Homo sapiens: one gene and its partner. The protein of the gene in region 2 interacts with the protein of the main gene of each other region in a pairwise test. Each region holds a gene or a part of one and is shown on either strand. Other genes may lie near its edges.

Region 1 (5,877 bases), on a different chromosome or scaffold from region 2:
TTAATAAGCAGCAAAGCTCAGAACAACTTAAAAAAAATTTTTTTTTGAGACAGGGTCTCACTCTGTCACCTAGGCTGGAGTGCAGTGGTGCAATCATAGCTCACTACATCCTTAATCTCTGGGGCTCATGCAATCCTCACACCTTAGCCTAACCCAAATAGCTAGGATTACAGGCATGTGCCACCACGCCTGGCTAATTTTTCTATTTTTTGTAGAGATGAGGTCTCCCTACGTTGCCCAGGCTGGTCTTGAACTCCTGGGCTCTAGTGTTCTTCCCACCTCAGCCTCCCAAAGTGTTAGGATTACAGGCATAAGCCACCACACCTGGCCAAAAACTTGTACAGAGTGTTTTGAAGACAATATTTGAGTGTCTTCCAAACAGTAGAGGAGACATCCCTTGGCCCATAGGTAGATAGTCATTGATTAATAAATGTGTCAATGAAGAATATAGAAGAAACTTATAATACAGATCCTTCCACAAAGGTGCTAGTGGCCTAACTAGGATCATATCCAGTATACTCAAATTAATTAAGGCTAATTAAATAGTATATATAGATCCCACAATTTCTTACTTGAAACTTTTGGGGCCAATGCATTTTGGCCAACATTTTCAGATTTTAAAAAGCACTATTGTATGTTAATGTGTGTATGTTTATATCATATATGACTAACACACTCTTAGAAGGACCTACTCATAACAAAACACAGTGATATTTCCACAGTGAAATATGTAATGGTCACATAGCATAAATAAACAAGATAAATAGCCTCACATTGTCAATCTAGTCAGGTGTCATATCTAAATGAGTTTTGGGGCCACTTTGAAAAAAACTTTCCATTTTCAGAGCTTCAGAGATTTGGGTACTGTAGATAAGGGACTGGGATCTGTCATATGGGCTCAACACAGATCCTGGAAGTGTAGAGAGGAAGCTACATTGGAATTAGAAGACTCGGTGAAAGTCTTGTGAATGAGGCAGAATTTGAGCTACAGTGAGTTAATTTTCTGCCCCTGGGAGGTGAGGTCCCCACAATGCCTTGTCACCCTGTTATCAGCCATGGAAGCTATATTTTCCTGCTTGAGCCACTAGGCGCCTGTGGAGTATTTTGTAAATTGCTTTCCTGCGATAGTCTACGTGGTCAGATTAAACAAAAAAAACAAAAACAAAACAAAACAAAACAAAAGAAAAACATGACCCACTGAGATTTGCCCAAAGTGAAGACCCGGAGGAGATGAGTATGCCCATCAAACAGTGCCGGAACGCTTAGGGAGAGAAGCTGGACGGAAGCTGAAGAGGATGGAGCCACATCTGAATACTAGAGAATATAGGCTTTAATCCCTGGCTAATTCCATTCTCTTAATAATTCACTCCATACAATGGAGATCTTTCACATTTCATTCCTAAATCCTTGGTTTACCTACCAGACAGATTGCTAACGTGGCCGATTTTCTCTGACACCTATTCTTCTTTCCCCTCTTCCCATCCTATTTCTCATTTTTTCCCCCTTACCTTAGATAATCTTTTGTCTCTTTCCCCGGAGAGGGATTCGCCCTCAGGAAGCATAGGAATCTGCCTTGGCTGGGTCATCACCTTTCACCACTTCATTACCACCTCTAAAACATCAGGCCAGCCCACAGATGGAGACATACCTCCTGTCCACTATTATTAGAATTCCCTGGGAGACAACACTGTTCCTAAGAGGTTATTGCTGGAAGTGAGTCAGAGGTATAAGGGATATATTGAATCAGGGACGTCTAGGAGGATACTAAAGTGGTTGCCTGTCTGTGAAAACAGGAAGGATAAAGAGAATAAAGACAGAAAGAACAGGAAAATGCAAGCCAGGTCAGAGTAAAGCAAACCGTTCTTCCCTTCAGTCTCCCATTTATGTATGTCCCTGACTTGGGTCTATAATAGTCTAGGAATGTGAAGCAGAGAAAAACTCTAGGGGAAGGAAATCTCAAAATTCAGTCACACGGTGAATCCTTACAGCTATGTTCTCAGATTCCTCTTCTCCCTATGCATGACTAACTACACTATTTCTCATTTGAATTTAGAGGAAATAGGCTGAGGGCAGCCACTTGCATCTTCTGTGTATCCAGCCACACAGCTTCTCTTCTCCTTGATTAAGTTTGATACCTTCTCTGCTGAAATTATTCTTTCACTAACTTTCTTGTTCTTTAGAGCAATAAAGCGGAAACGATGCTAAATGAGAAAAAGACTGTCTCCCATCCCATTCATCCCACATCTACTGGGCACCTCATATGAGCACTATTCTGCTTCTGGACATAATTCAAAAAAGATTTCTCACTCTCTCTTTCTCTTTCTCTCTTTTCCTCTCTCTTTTTCTCATTCTCTTGACCCACCCCCCTCTAACTCCCTGTGCCAGACTCTGACTATAGGACGAACATCTGCTTGCATGACTGACTATAGGACCAACATAGCATAAGTGATCAGTATCGGCTGACTGAATCTCTAAAAGGATCCAGATAAAGAGAAGAGCGGGCCCAAAAAGAAAAAGAAGAGGAAAAGGAGAACAGAGAAAGTAAGGAGAAAAAGAAGCAAAGGACAAAAGCAAAGGTAAGAGATGAAAACAAGAAGCCAAGCAAGGAGGCTGCTAGTAAAAGGTGGGAAGAAAGAGAAAAGGGCAGTGAAGGGTCAAGAAAAAAGAGTTCTATTCTTGCTCCAGCCCATCTTCTATCTTGCTCTACAGCACCACACCACCTCCCCAGCAGACCCCCATACCTAGGCCCTAAATTTTTCCAAGCTCGGAAAAGGAAGCCTGTTCCACATGGTCCTCCAGAAGCCATTACAGATAGAATCACTTTAACTTCATCCGCAATAGAGAAGTGCAGTTGTGCAAAACCCAAGAGTCTTATGTGATTGTTGTAGAGGCTCAGGGTGGGCAGCAGGGAAGAACATGGGTAAAGGATACACTAAACTCTTCCAGTCCACATCCAGAGACAAACTCAGAGCAGAGCAGGAAACAAATGGATGGCCAGGACTACAGTACGGACTACAGCAGCTCTTCACTTACTCCTTTCCAGGGTAAGGGAAAGGAGAGGCAGAGAGCTTAGAGAAACTAGGCATCATCACCTTATCCTACCATCTCTAATCCTAGGAACAAAATGCAAGTTGGGTGACCCATAGGGCAAGGAAGAATTCCATCTGCATGATACCTAAGATCAGGAGAACTATATGAGAAAGAAGAAGTAAAAAAGGAAGAGGAACAGGAGAAGGTGAAGAGAAAAAAGATGATGAGTTGCTTCATTGTCCAGTTGGTAACTGGCGCTTCATGTCATTACAGGTTATAATAATGTGCTTTTTTATAACAGAAGTTAGGTAATTGCAGTTAGGAGTGACCTGGTCTGGTTGGGACAGCTCGCACAATGTCAAATCAAAAGGTCGGGAGCTTTTGTGACATTTTCCCCCCTTGAGCTCACAGGCAATGACAGGACTGTTACAGACAGCTTTGACTGTGTTTAGATCCTCATGGATGAATGCATACTGGGCTATGCAACTCTGACTGGGCTCCTTCATCTTGTGTGCCATCATATCATTGCATTCTCTATCTGTCTGGTCAAGCCTAAGATAGTCTTTGTTGCTCTGAAAGAGAGCTGAGGCTCTGAGCATCTTGTTACCCCCAACCTCATCTTCACCGAGGATGGGATCTTCTGGCCAGCCAGGTTGCACCACTTCTTTGTTGCTAAGCACCAGCGTTTCTGTGGTTTGGGTGCCGTCTCCCTCCTCAGTGGCCTCAGCTTTGTCCTGTGAGTCACTGGACCAAAATTCATTGAGCGGTTGATCACTCTCCTCCAAGACTGCTGTAGCCATATGAAGTCCCAACCCCAGGCCCATCCCCAGGCCCAGCAGCAGCATCAGCAACATGAAAAAGATCTGCACCAGATTCAGCTTCATTTTGCCTGGAGAGGAAGCGGGAAATGGAAGAACGTGACTTTGAGATCAAAATTGGCTCTAGTAGAGACTGTAATCTCACTAAGCCCTACAGCATTGTATCTGGGGTCTCCTGTGTCTTCTGCACATTACTCTACCCTCTTCAAGGCAGCGATTTCTCTTTCCATTCCCATTTCTCTTGTTCCTCCCTACCACATTCCCTGTTGCTGTGTAATAAAATGTGGAAGTTTCCTCATGTTTCTTCTCTTGAAGAGTAGGGAGATGACCAAGGGAAGCAGTTCTGAGGTAATTTACATATGGGAAATCAGTGAGGAAAGTTGACATCAATTGATTCTTTTTTTTTTTTTTTTCCTTTTGAGACAGGATCTTGCTCTGTCACCCAGATTGGAGTACAGTGGCACCATCATAGCTCACTGAAGCCTCAATCTCCCAGGGTCAAGTGATCCTTCTGCTTCAGCCTCCCAAGTAGCTGGGATCACAGGCACACACTACCATGCCCAGCTCTTTTTTTTTTTTTTTTTGAGACGAGTCTCGCTATGTTGCCCAGGCTGGTCTCAAACTCCTGCGGTCAATTAATCATCCCACTTTGGCCAAAGTGCTGGGATTACAAGTGTGAGCCACCATGCCCCTGACATCAATTGATTCTTAAACAGAAATTTGTGCCAAATAACCAGAGAATGATTGAGAAGACAAGCGTGTACAGTGTCACACTCTCCTTTAGGGAAATTCTTGTAGAAAGCCTTATTGTCAATATAGGACTAGATTTACCACAGAAGACCATCTCTTTATTTTTAACCCAAATTTGCTTTTGCTTATTCAAATATCTATTACTCTTCTTGTTACCCACCTTCCCCACAAAAGATAAAAAGGAATAGAAAAAGTACCACAGTCCATTCTTACTCCTAAGCTGAGGCTGGAGGGAAGATGTCCAACTTTACATCTCAGGCCCCTGCTAAAGCTACATCTTGTTAAGCCAGATTCCTTCTACTATTAAAGATCTCTTAACATCTGAGTAGTCTTGCTGATTAGGTTTATACTCTCAGGGAAGAAATGGAATAAGAATGAAACCAAAGAAAATCAAACAATTGACCTGCTGGGGGTTCCCCTACTCATAAAGATTCTAAGGAGGCCAGGCTTGGTGGCTTCTGCCTATAATCCCAGCACTTTGGGAGGCCAAGGCAGGTGGATCACCTGAGGTAGGAGTTCAAGATCAGCCTGGCCAACATGGTGAAACCCCATCTCTACTAAAAATACAAAAATTAGCCGGCATGGTGCCACGCACCAGTAGTCCCAGCCACTGGGGAAGCTGAGACACGAGAATTGCTTGAACCCGTGAGAAGGCCAAGATGGTGCCACTGCACTACAGCCTGTGTGACGGAGTGAGATTCTGTCTCAAAAAAAGAAGATCCTAAGGAGAGCTGAGCATGCATCTTTGTCTTGCTAGGCCAGTCTCATCCCCTTAACAAAGAGACACATTCCCTGCCAGAAAAAAAAAAAATTGCTATGAAGAACATTATTGAGGCAATTGATAAAAGTATGATCTCTGTAGTAGATAAGAGTATTATGGCAGTCCCCCTTATCCACAGGGAATATGTTCCAAGACCCCAGTGAATGTCTAAGGCCCTATATGTACTGTTCTCTTCCTATACATACATATCTACATAAGTTTAATTTATAAATTAGTAATATATATTAACAACAACTAATAAAATAGAATAATTATAACAATATACTGTTCAAAATTTGCAGATAAAAGATTCTTTCTTACTGTAGATTTTACCAATTGCAGCATGTTTTTCCCCCCTTTCCTTATTAAGTTGAGACACTTTCACCTTTTCACTCAAACGGAGCACTTTACGGGTTCTTTTTGACGTGTCTGAATTGCCAGCATCATCATTCTTGCACTTTGCGGCTATTACTAGGTAAAATAAGGGTTATGTGAACACAGGCGCTGAGATACTGTGAC
Region 2 (7,029 bases):
CTATCAGAGCTATAGGAGGACCTTTTATATATATCTAATTTTTATTTATTTGTTTGCTTATTTATTTGAGACAGGGTCTTGCTCTGTCACCCAGGCTAGAGTGCAGTGGTGTGATCATAGCTCACTGTAACCTCAAATTCCTGGGCTGTTCAAGCAGTCCTCTTGCCTTAAGCCTCCTGTGTAGCTGGGACCAAAGGTGCACACCACCACATGTGGCTAATTTTTATTTTTATTTATTTTTTATTTTTGAGATGGAGTTTCGTTCTTGTTGCCCAGGCTTGAGTGCAATGGTGCCATCTCAACTCACCGCAACCTCTGCCTCCCGGGTTCAAGCAATTCTCCTGCCTCAGCCTCCTGAGTAGCTGGGATTACAGGCATGCGCCACCACGCCCGGCTAATTTTGTATTTTTAGTAGAGACGGGGTTCTCCCTGTTGGTCAGGCTGGTCTTGAACTCTGGACCTCAGGTGATCCACCCGCCTCAGCCTCCCAAAGTGCTGGGATTACAGGGATGAGTCACCGCGCCCGGCCTCATGGCTAATTTTTAAATTTGTTGTAGAGATAATGTCTCACTATGTTGCTCCGGTTGGTCTTTAATTCCTGAGCTGAAGCGATCCTTTTGCCTTGGCCTCCCAAAGTGCTGGGATTACAGGCCGGAGCCACCGTGCCTGGCCAAGGATCTTTCTCAAATGAGAAATGCCTGCAGGCAGCTTTCCTTCCCCCTCAATATACTTAAAGAGCCTCCCCAATCCAAGTGACACATAGAGAGATGGGCAGATAAGATGTTAACAGATACATTAGACAAAGCATGCAGCCTGTTCTGGCCTTGGCTTAACCCAAGATTTCATTGCCCTCCTTTCCTCATTCCTTCTGGCCCATTTCCAATTATTTTCTTATTCCAATGATTCTTCAAGTATGATTCCTGGAGCAGTAGCATCAGTATCTCCAGAAATGGAAATTTTTAGAGCCCATCCCAGTTCCACTGAATCAGAAACTCTAGGGGTGGGCCCAGCTACCTGTGTTTTAACAAGTCCTTCAGGTGATTAGAATGCATGCTCAAGTTTGGGAATCACTGTCCTAACCATTAAATTGTACATTAGCCTTAGGGTAAGAGCTGCCAGTTATTAAGACATCCATAGAGATGAGATAAACTACAAATGAGGCCCCCGTCTCAAAGACCCTCCAAAAGTCAGGGCAGAGAAAGGGAGCTTCTTCTCCCAGGCCAGCTGGTCTGGCCTAAGCCCTAAGCTGCTGCCCTAAGCCCTCTATATCGCAGGAGACAACAGGTGGGCTAGGGCTATGGATACTTAGCCAGGCAGGTGCCTTGAGCCTACTAGGACAAAAAAGCAATAGACAAGGCAGAACCCCAGTCTTCCACACATACTCTGACTTGAGGAAGCGAGCAGTTTTGATGATCTGTTTGGTAGCTTCAACATAGCCGTTCTCACCGAAGTGCATCAAGGCAGCCCAACAGGCTGCGCTAATGCCACCAGGCCGTGAGCCTGCGATGGTTGGGGAAGCATAGATGCCACCCTGCCAATCTGTATCGACGAAGAACTGATAGTTCCTGTACTTCTTGTCACTATACAACACCAATGATGAGCCTTTTGGGGCATAGCCATACTGTGGAAGAAGTAGCAGACAAGAAAAGTGAGAGTATAGTTCTGTCTGGCAGACCTTGTCCCAGAACTCTCATCATGCAAAGGAAATCCTATTTATTTCTCAGTTTCTCTGTTATGTTTCCCACTCACATTAAGGATTCAAACTTAAAATGCTAAAGGATAGTAGGAACTTAAGGGATGGAGTTTAAATTCTCTCTGTTAGGAATGAGGAATCTGAGACCCAGGGAAGAACAGCGCCCAGTTAATCGGTTTACTCCCTCTCTTGCCCAGCATGTGGTTTACCTTATTTAAAATATTTCTCTGGAGACCATATGTCAGGATGAAAGCAAGGGTAAGTTTGCAATGGAAGCCAGGAAAGGATGGAATTTGTCACTTCAAGTTAAAATCACCATCTGACCCCCTTCCCATCTTTTTTTGCTTAGTATTACTAAGAATATTATGCTTATGAGAACATAATGGTGCTCAGAAACTAAAAGCTACTTAATCCAGCTTTAAAATTAACTATGTAACTGGTTTCCTTATAGAACATCTGACCCCCTAATTAACTCTTATTAAAACTAACGTGGAACTAATTTCATTACCTGAACCATCCAGAAATGGATGGTTATGGGAAAAGGACACAGGAGCTATCTGGATGGTAAGGAAAAAACAGATGCTGACTGAAAATCGGCTGCAGATCACACCGATTTTGAAAAACAAGTCTTTAATATACTTGAGTTTAAAACAAGCTCTGAAAATGCAATCAAAACAAGGTACACATTCCTGAGGCTGCTAATACTTCTTCCACATCTGGATGTATATTCAATAGCGTTATCAACTGATCTAGACTTTGTCTCAGTCCACCAAGGGTGGCAGGCGTGGCCATCTCAAATGCTGAATGTTCCTGAGCACACAGGTTCTTCCCATTTTCCAAAGGACTCTTCCGTCAACATTTTCCCGTCATGTACGCTCAGGAGCCCAGTTGCACAGCAGCTCTAATGTTATCTACCAGCATGGGAACTCCACTACCAACCCTCACACTCCTCTACCCTCCACCTCAAATCAGCTCAAGGCTTCAGGGAGCTTTTTTAACAAGGGCCACTACACTAGCATGTTCTAGTTACACACAGTCAGTGGATACAGAAATTCTCTTAGCCAATTTGAGATAAAGGTAACAGGTTCATTTTCACTACTGCTTGTCACCTCTACCACTATACCCCATCACCTGAACCAGCTGATCTGGTGACGGCAAAGAGAGAGTTTAAAACAAGCATCTGATGAGAATTCTATAGTTAATTTTATACTTTGCGGGGAAGCTACCAATTTATTTTATCAATAATAGTCAAAATAATCAACTGGTAACACTTGATCTCCTCCTTAGCTCACCTTATGGGTGTCAGCTGAAATGCTGGTTACACCTTTCACCCGGAAATCAAATGGGTGCTCCAGTGGGTATCCTGCTTTCTCCATAAAGACGATGAGGAAGCCTCCCAGACAAGCGTCGACATGAAGGGGTATTTTGTATTTGACAGCCAGCTTGTTCCAAAAAACAAAGAACATAAGAGAATTTCCTTTATAGCCCTATAATAAAAACTGCAAGACATGGGTGGAAAGATGGGCTATAAACACAAGGCTATTTTGTATTATGCCTCCCATGTTTTTAAAAAATGGCTATTTTTAACATTCCCAACAAAATTTATCTTTCAAATGTATTTTCCCTTCAAAATAATTCATCTGAAATATGGTATCAATTTTATATTTAAATATGCATGACCTCAAACGCTCTGCGGTATCAAGCAGGAAATGAGTAGAGCTCTGATTTAGGCTGCCTCTCGCACAAGGGAAAGGTCCTGCCTCAGTCACTGCAGGATGAGGCGTGAGGGAAAGGGAGGCGCTGAGGGGCAGCATGTGGAATATCACCCTTTTGGTGGGCACATTCCTACATGCAGATTATTTCCAGATCTCAATCTAGAAGGCAATCCTATTTCAGAATTTCCAGTTTAAAAGGCCTCAGCCTTGTACTATCTTCCCCCACAGCAGAGACTAGCAACTTTTAAAGGCTTGCAACTGAGCTGCAGGGCTTCCCCTAGGGCTGATGAGAGCTACTTATCACTACTGTGGTCAAAAACAAAAAAAAAATCGCTTCTATTTGCCAAGTACTGCCCCATTAGGCTTTGTTTTAAAATATCCATTTGCCTGCCTTAGCAGCCCATTTCTCTCATATACCTTGGCCACTTCAGGGACAGGATCTATTACACCATGAGGAAACTGTGGGGTAGAACAGACGAGCATGGCAGTGTTCCTGGAGATAGCTCTTCTCATTGCCTAGGGATTTAAAGTTTAAAGGAAAATGAGAATCTATGTCACAATTACTCTTCTCTTCTGCTGCCAAGAGCAATTTGGGCTGCTAGCTTAGAGTTCCAGTTCCACCAGTACCCCCTCCTTCACCACTCCAACTGGGAGAAGACTGCATCCCACCACGGTGACAGGACACAGGTGACTCCAGGTAAGTCCATTTGGAGAATAGTCTGAGAGCACAAAATAAGAACAGAATCGCTGTGGGGGCGAAAATAATATTGAGCTAAGAGGCCAAAGAGCCAAATGTGAGCCCCAGCCCCACAACGTACCAGCAGTGAAACCCTGAGTATGCTACTTCAGTCTGTTCCTTATCTGTGAACTACAATAATATAACAGCTTCATCAACCTCTCTGGAATGTCATAAAGCTCAAATGGGATTCTGACAGAACACTGAAACTAGAAAACTCCTCTACACAAATGTGAGGCATAAAAATAATCACTATCATAATGACAATGGTATTAATTTAAGCCAATCTAAACCACAGTGAGAGTCTTTTTTTTTTTTTTGAGACAGGGTCTTGCTCTGTCACCCAAGCTGGAGTACAGTGGTGTGAACACAGCTCACTGCAGCATCAACCTCCTGGGGCTCAAGTGATCCTCCCACCCCAGCCTCCCGAGTAGCTAGGACTACAGGTGCATGCCACCATGTCCAGCTACTTTTTTAAATTTTGTGTAGAGATGGGGTCTCACTATGTTGCTCAGACTGGTCGCAAACTCCTGGGCTCAAGGGTTCAAGTAATCCTCCCTCCTCGGCTTCCCAAAGTGCTGGGATTACAGATGTGAGCCACCATGCCCGGGCCATGGTAAGAGTCTTAGGGGAAGTGAGTCCATGTTCATTTTACAAATAGAGAAAAGAAAGAAAAAGTGATGGCGCTGACCGCAAAACCAGTGTCTCTCAAGTCCCAAGTTAGTGACTAGATCACCTCCCTTTCAGAATTCATGAACCTATGAAAAGACTGAAGCTGCAGTCAATCACCACTATCAATGCAGTTTTTCATATTCTGGCTGCCACAATCAAAGGCAGTCAGACCCATCTGACTGGAAACGGCTAGTCAACAGGAGGGCCCTTCTGCTGTCAGGGCCCAGCACAGACAGTGGGCCCTCCAGAGGGACTCACCCGCACATCCACCTCCATCATCTTCGTCAATGGGACCCGCACAATCTTCATCCCAAAGTAACTGGCTGCTTTGTTAAATGCAGCATGGGCACTTTGGGGAGCCACACTAAATGACAGGGAAGAGGAGAATAATGTAACTCAGGCCAAAATAATAGAAAACACCATTAGCAGCTAATCTAAATTACCGGGAGTAAGTTCTGATTATTTTTCCCCAAATTAAAAATTTAAGTGTTTAGACTGCTCTACTTTTCTTTTTAAGCACACCCAAAAAGAGGCCAACTGATTTTCTGCAGAAACTTCCCTCCTATTTAGGAAATCATTCTGGCAATAGGAAGAGGACTCAGAAGTGATCCCACAGTGAGGGATCCAAAGCATAAAGCTAGGCTGGCAGGCGGAAAGCTGGGGGACAGAGACTTTGGATGAGAGCAACACAAGGCAGAGCTGGCTAACGGTTGCCTACCAAAGACAGGCACCTCAGTGAGAATGAGAAGAAGGCTTCCCGGCACAACACATGTTCAAGCAGAAATGTTCACACAGCGGCCAAGCATCAGCTCAGTGGCCCCTTCCAACTCTGAAAGACAACAAACCTGAAGAAACTAAAATCCCCATTTCTCCTACACATTTGGAAATAGTATTTCAAATAGTGTTGAAAGAGAAAATGAGGTCACGGGTATTTGCTTTAGACTTTCCTCAACTACTCCATTCATACAACGAATCTGTTCCCTCTAAGGAGAAAAATCTCTACTACTGAGGAAGTACCAAGCACCAAAGATCGACATATGAAGAAAGAATGGCAGCCTGGTTTATTCTCTTATGCTACATATGAACCACAGCATGAGACCATATGCAATAAATCCCCATTGTCAAGTAATACTTGCAGTAAAAATATTAAGATGTAGGATAAACATACTGTACAAGGGGACAGTCTAGGAAAAAATAATGTAACTAAACATCAAATTTATGTCCAAGGAAGGCAATGTGGGTAAATCTCAAAAAGATATTTTTATTCTTCCTCCCAGAAAACAGCCCTCACACTAAAGTTTTCCCAGAGAGTACCCTGAGGCAGCCTATAATATTAAGTAACTTTCTAAGGTAAGCAGAACTAAAGTACCTAGAGAGGTTTCTTTAGGCTCCAAATAATTTGCAAATATCACAGGATTCAAAGATGTAGTCCTCAAACTCTCACTTTTGGAAAAAGGATCTTATTTTTGCTTGTAGTATATACTATGCATGATCTGGGGGTGGGGCGGGATGGGAATGATCTTTAAAAATAACTGGCTGATCCATTTAGAATTTTACTGAATGTAAAAGGATAAGGGCAGAGGGGCTAGGACAGGGGGAAAGGGGACCAGAATTACCAGAGGAAGAGAAGCAGCAGGAAAATGGATTATCTGCTTTAGTTTCATAAAGCTGTACTCCAGACAGACAAATCCAAAAGGGGACAAAACAGCCACACATACATACATTTCTGGAGTTTTGATCCCCTTCTCAAAGGCCAGATCCCGATATGCTTTGCAGGCCATCAGTATGCTTTCTGTTCCCCCAGAAGTCACCTATAATAAAGAAGAGATGCCATCTGTTGGGGGAGTCAGGAATGCCCCGGCTCTTCATGCCCTGATCTTGACAATGTTTGATACAGAAACAGATAAGGTCTTGGATGCATGCTGCAAGGCAGACACTGCCATGTCTTCCAGAAGGAAAATTTGGCTTTATTGGCTAAGCCTAATTTTGGCTCAGGTGAAGAATGAAAGCTACTAAATAATGAGCAGAAACTCAGCACTGCCTAGACAAATGCACACTTGGCCAGATCCCACCTATTCACAATCCATTTACATTTCTGTATTAATTTTTCAATTTTCAGATAAGATAGGGCATTTTATGCCATTCAAAAATATCAGAATTTTAATTTAAATTTTCAATACCTGTTAAAGAATGTGAAATTGTGATTACAATTC

What was found.
Region 1: the proteins of SGPL1 (region 2) and RNASE10 interact in binary tests that used the Homo sapiens proteins (3 or more experiments, as listed by UniProt).

What each region holds. Positions count from the first base shown.
Region 1 is NC_000014.9:20,508,509-20,514,385, reverse strand, and holds the end of RNASE10 (inactive ribonuclease-like protein 10 precursor), read right to left. Parts: intron 3,920-5,877; 5' UTR 3,915-3,919; coding exon 3,264-3,914; 3' UTR 502-3,263; downstream 1-501. UniProt on the Homo sapiens protein: Secreted proximal epididymal protein required for post-testicular sperm maturation and male fertility. May be involved in sperm adhesion to the egg zona pellucida. Does not have ribonuclease activity.
Region 2 is NC_000010.11:70,867,943-70,874,971, reverse strand, and holds part of SGPL1 (sphingosine-1-phosphate lyase 1), read right to left. Parts: intron 6,628-7,029; coding exon 6,539-6,627; intron 5,181-6,538; coding exon 5,075-5,180; intron 3,925-5,074; coding exon 3,826-3,924; intron 3,136-3,825; coding exon 2,986-3,135; intron 1,622-2,985; coding exon 1,383-1,621; intron 1-1,382. UniProt on the Homo sapiens protein: Cleaves phosphorylated sphingoid bases (PSBs), such as sphingosine-1-phosphate, into fatty aldehydes and phosphoethanolamine. Elevates stress-induced ceramide production and apoptosis.